Homo sapiens: one gene and its partner. The protein of the gene in region 2 interacts with the protein of the main gene of each other region in a pairwise test. Each region holds a gene or a part of one and is shown on either strand. Other genes may lie near its edges.

Evidence for each region. The genes of interacting proteins can lie anywhere in the genome.
Region 1: the proteins of CLDN20 (region 2) and CNIH3 interact in binary tests that used the Homo sapiens proteins (3 or more experiments, as listed by UniProt).

What each region holds. Positions count from the first base shown.
Region 1 is NC_000001.11:224,738,268-224,741,054, forward strand, and holds the end of CNIH3 (protein cornichon homolog 3), read left to right. Parts: intron 1-1,061; coding exon 1,062-1,089; 3' UTR 1,090-2,287; downstream 2,288-2,787. UniProt on the Homo sapiens protein: Regulates the trafficking and gating properties of AMPA-selective glutamate receptors (AMPARs).
Region 2 is NC_000006.12:155,273,988-155,277,072, forward strand, and holds the end of CLDN20 (claudin-20 precursor), read left to right. Parts: intron 1-1,628; 5' UTR 1,629-1,732; coding exon 1,733-2,392; 3' UTR 2,393-2,561; downstream 2,562-3,085. UniProt on the Homo sapiens protein: Plays a major role in tight junction-specific obliteration of the intercellular space, through calcium-independent cell-adhesion activity.

The DNA.
Region 1 (2,787 bases), on a different chromosome or scaffold from region 2:
AAACAAAGGTATCCACTTGAGGCTTAGTACTGTTATGCAAAAAGCACTGGCTTTGGAGTTAGAATGTGGCTTCTCGCCCTGCTGTCACTCCTCATCTGGCCCTCAGCTTCCCCAAGTAGAGTAAGTCCCTCTTGCTCCAGGTCTGACCAGTGGTTCTCTGTGTACATGAGGTGTGTGAGGTTCCTGAAGATGGAACTTGAGCTACTCAGAGGAGCTCATTGGGCATCCACAGCTGCAAAGGGTTAGAAGTCAAACCTTTTCATTTCTTTCCTTTGGTTTTACTTCTTAGATGAATCTTTTTTTCTCACTATAATGTGAAAAGATAGTTGGTTTCTTTTTCTGCGAAATAGACAAAGAGGTATATTTTGGTGCAGATCATTCCTCAGCCTTGCAAAATTACCCTGAAGCCCTTACTAAGCGCACAGGGATACATGTCCCCTTCACCCCACTCTTAGTAGTATTGGGGCAATACTTTAGGTCACACACTTTTAATGCATGTTTAATTCCTGGAGTCCATTAAAAATAAGAGGGCCAGGGAGTTACCCAATCAAGAATTCATTGAGTTCTGGTGCCCAGAGGGCTTATGTTCCCACGCTGGCCTTTGCAGTAGTGATGATGATCTTTCCCCCAGCACTACCGTATTATCCAGCATCATCTGGGAGCCCCTGGACACAGCCATCATGCAAGCACATGGCAGCTGGTGGCATAAAGAATCCACTGCACCCCCACCTCCACCCCCAGACCTGCCCTGCAATTGCACAAAAAGGAAAACAACCATAATCATCATCCTGATGAGAATGATAATAGGCACTTAGAGCTTTCACATCTTTTATCCAAGGGATACAATATGCTCTCCCAAAAAATTTTTATTCCAGTGTTGTGGGAAGTAGAAGGGGCACAGTAGTGGAGTTGGCGAGATGCTGTAGTGACAGGAATGAGGGAGAAGCCAAGGGGTCTGGCCTCTGGAAGGTCCCTCTCCTGAGGGGCAGCCTGAGTCCTCTGTGGGCTTCTACTAACACCTTCCTCTCTTTTTTTTTTTTTTTTTTTTTTTTTGCATTCAGCATGATCTACACTTTAGTGAGCTCTTAACGCAAAGACCATGCACATCATCAGAGACTGAGATGGGAGAGGCCTGAGACGGAGAGGTGCATTTCTGCTGGTGACTGGAGGAGGGACCAGAATGAGGATACGTGAGAAATAGACCCGGCAGGCAGTCAGACTGAATGGGAGCTGGAATCACGCAGCAGCTGGGAGCCGAGTTAACCCTGCGTGTCTGTGTCACCCTGTTTGTCAATCTTTGGCATTCGAATTCCACACACGGGGTCCTAGAGCCCTTCTGAGCATCAGTGGTGTGGGGGAGTAGGTGACGAAACACTAGACCTCTCCTGAGAGAGAATTGCTGCTTCCTGAATCCACTTCATTGAACAGCACCTTGCAAGTTCAAATGAGTTCCTGGGAGCGGAGGCTGGAAGGCCACAAGGTGCTTGCTAAGGAACAGAATGACCCAGAGTCAAGGCCAAGTCTGCAGGGACCTGTTGAAAGCCTCGAGAATGTCTTGGCTGCCCAAGACTCTTGTTGCCTTTCTTCCAAGCCATGGCCATGCCCTTTTTCTCAAATGGGAGGGGCTGGAGGGTGTGTGGGATTTGTCTTCAGCTGCAACCAGCCTTGAGCCTGCTGGGCTATTTTCAGCTGAGGAGGGGTGAATATAGGAAAAATGCATTTTTGAAACGTTTGCAACATGATCAAGGTGTTAGTTCTCCACCACACAAGTTGTATTCTTCTTTTGCCACCTCAAACCATCACAGAGTCTTTAAATGCAAATCAATTGGTCAATGCTAGTCAAAGCTATGTTCTTACAAAAACCCCAGACAGCTCAGAGCTCAGAAAATCCTGTGGAGTGGCTGCTCTGTACCGTGGGCATCCGGCAGCCAGGAAGTGAGACAACATAATTATAACTTTGTTTTATGATGCTGCATCATTTGTACTGTTTAGGTCGACGTGAGGACATCATCTTATTTAGAATTTTCCGTTTGGCATTCTCTTTTGGGTGGGAGTTATGCTGGGGGTTGTAAATAATGACAAGGCTGAGATTTTTATGATGTTTAAATTGGGCACAATGATTTTGACCTTATTCCCCAAACTTCTTTTCTTTTCTACTGTTTAACATACACAGGCTATTTATACACGTCCCCAGCTCCCATCTGAAACCTGTGACTCAGGTTTATGAATGGTGTTTGTGTAGCAACACATTGTGTGCTATGTTTATTAAAATGCAGCGACAACTTGAGTGTCTCACTTAACTGGCTCTCTCATTTCAACCATTACAGCTGAATTTGTCTACATATGGTTGGAAAACTGATAGGAAGAAAAGGCAAATTTTCAAAAAGGCATCATGCTGCTAAAAATTCTGTGGAAAACAAAATGCAGACTTTTACTCTGAGGTTTATGGTATAAAACTGGAGAATTTGAGGTGATGATTTTGGGAGAAGGCTTCCTCTTGGCCAATGCCCTTTTTACCGACCAGGTAACTGTTGTTAGGGATAGAGTTACCTTTCGGCTGCTTGGGCCTGGCTTTGGCTTCATTCCTGAGAAGACTAGTGACCCTCATCCAGAGAGGCAAGCCTTGGATGGCAGGCTGCAGACGCTAATCTAATCGCACAGCCGTCCTGCAAATGCAACTGGATGTAGAAGGTGAATGGTCTGTGTTACTTCTCACCATGGAGCTGTTTTGTTTCTATACTCTGTCTTCTTTCAGAAAGATTTGTAGTGGCTCATAATAGGAGACAC
Region 2 (3,085 bases):
ATTACTGAGGACTTTCTGTGGCTTAAATATTGGTCTAAGCCCTTAAAATGTATTAACTTATTTAACCCTATGAACGAAGTATTTCAATCCTCCCCATTTTCCAGAAGAGGATACTGAGGCACAGAGAGGTATAAAGCTAAGAACTGGCCCAAGTGTCTTTGACTCAAGAGCCTGTATCACCTTTTGTAAAATACATATGAATCACGACAGAGCCACTTTAGCATACCATTCAAAATTAACTCAGAATGACAAAGAAAGTCAGTACTGCAGTATTTCAGAAACCATTACATTTTTCTCAAATAAGGCAGTAAGCAGTGCCAGATGGGCTAGATAGGGGAACAGGAATAGAAAGATGGAATCGAAAGCCTTTTTGTTTCTTAAAACACAGCCAAGCCACAAAGTAGGTGGTCTTTTCCTTCCTCTTAAAAATAAACAAAGAAAATAAAGGGTTAATTTATTTCTGGTATCCTTTCACATACAACTAATGATGTGGTTATTTCTGGTATGTATTTTTGAGATCTGCCATCACTACTTCTGAATTGTTCAGAATAGCCGGCTTCATTTGGGCCAGGAAATGATTCTGGTCCCAATTAGAAAGGACCTCATGTTCTTATATACAAAAAACAGTGGCTTAATTGTTTTGAGTACCAGGCACCTGAAGTAAAACAAGTACTAACCTCAGTCAGGATTTTGCAAACAGGTATTAACTAGAACTTAGGGATAACCATGCCAGTGACTCAGACTTCTTTCCACTGCTGTCCTTCCTCCTCAAATGGTTCACTTGGGCTATGTGCCTGGCACTGTGGGTGTGTCATAAAGATCTGTTTATGAAAGCCACTTCCTAAATACTTTTCTAAAATGTATTTATAAACCATCTTTAAAAGGTGGCCTTAATTTATTTTCTTCCTTATTATGTATTGAGTATTTTCATTAAAAATAAAATCATTTGGGCGAGGCGTGGTGGCTCACGCCTGTAATCCCAGCACTTCGGGAGGCCGAGGTGGGCGGATCACGAGGTCAGGAGATCGAGACCATCCTGGCTAACAGGGTGAAACCCCATCTCTACTAAAAATACAAAAAAAAAAAAAATTAGCCGGGCATGGTGGCGGGCGCCTGTAGTCCCAGCTACTCGGGAGGCTGAGGCAGGAGAATGGTGTGAACCCAGGAGGTGGAGCTTGCAGTGAGCCAAGATCGCTCCACTGCACTCCAGCCTGGGTGACAGAGTGAGACTCCATCTCAAAAAAAATAAAAATAAAAAATAAAATCATTTGAAAAACCTATAATGCTATTAAAATTCTTTATCAGATACTATAGCTGGAATTTCAAATGTCTAAATCTCCTAACAACGTACATGTCCACGCTACAGTTTCAGCATATGTTGAGTTTTAAAAAGAATTAAGTGGGCAACTGCTTTCTTTATGCCCTGTATCAACACCACCCATGCATATCACTCAGACCAGTCTTCAAGGCCTGGTGGGAGCTTTTCTCCTCCAGCCTACAGCATCCTCATCTGCTTGGGGGCTGGAGAAGGGGGATACTCAGATGTGTTCTTGGCTCCTACTCTAAAGGGAAGCCTTTTGTTTACTTACTTTCTTTCGCTCAATCCTGGTTTTGCCTTTTTTCCTTAGGCTTTGTTATTTGGTTCTCTACTGCACAGAAATAGATAGAATTCTGACAGCCATCATTGTTAAACATCAGGATTTTCTAAGAGGACAGACTTAACAGTAACATCATGGCCTCAGCAGGACTCCAGCTCCTTGCTTTCATCCTGGCCTTATCTGGGGTCTCTGGAGTGCTCACAGCCACTCTGCTGCCCAACTGGAAGGTGAATGTGGATGTGGACTCCAACATCATAACAGCCATTGTACAGCTGCACGGGCTCTGGATGGACTGTACGTGGTACAGCACTGGGATGTTCAGCTGTGCCCTGAAACACTCCATTCTGTCCCTCCCCATCCACGTGCAGGCTGCGAGAGCCACCATGGTCCTGGCGTGTGTTCTGTCTGCTTTGGGGATCTGCACTTCCACAGTAGGAATGAAATGTACTCGCTTAGGAGGGGACAGAGAAACCAAGAGCCATGCTTCCTTTGCTGGAGGAGTCTGTTTCATGTCTGCAGGAATCTCTAGTTTAATCTCGACAGTGTGGTACACAAAGGAGATCATAGCAAACTTTCTGGATCTGACAGTTCCAGAAAGCAACAAACATGAACCTGGAGGAGCTATCTATATCGGATTCATTTCTGCAATGCTGTTGTTTATCTCTGGCATGATTTTCTGCACCTCCTGTATAAAAAGGAATCCAGAAGCTAGACTCGACCCACCCACACAGCAGCCTATCTCTAACACACAGCTCGAGAACAATTCCACACACAATCTGAAGGATTATGTGTAAATAACTGAGTAATGCATATGAAATGGAACTTTTGGGTGCCAAATGGGACTTTTAGATTAAAAAAAAATCAGAATTATGCTTAACTTTCCCTACAAAGAAAGTAGAATGTAAAATACTTTAACAACTACAAAGTAGTTTAAAATGCCAATAAAACTATCATATACAATTACATCTGTCTGAAGAGTTCTTTATTTTTTCCATTATTGTTTCCATGTTTTACTTAAAGATTTATAATTGAAAGAGGTTCTGATTACATTCATAAGGCAATTATTTGATAGCTTTTTCAAGATAATTTGCTGATACACCTTTCAAACTGGATTTTATAAAAGAACTAAACTGCCAAGTATAAAAAGTACCTTGCCCTGGTGTTAACCAAGAATATTATCCACTTTGCTATCTGGTTGGCAACAACACAGCAACTTGCTTCTGTTTTAAAGCTACAGTGTGTGAAAGTACATTAGGAATACAAGAGCTGCCTACTCCATTCAGATGCTGCTAAAACCATCCATCCCAAGTCCCCACCTCCTGTGACCAGCCCATTTCTTTTTCATTTTAGAAAACTATCTACATATATTTGTAAGAGCTGACAATATTATATGCAAACTAAGATTAGGCAGAACTGAAGAAATTGGTAAATGCTACCACAGTAAAGAAAGCCAAACCAAACTAAAATCTCTAGGACTCTTAAAGCAT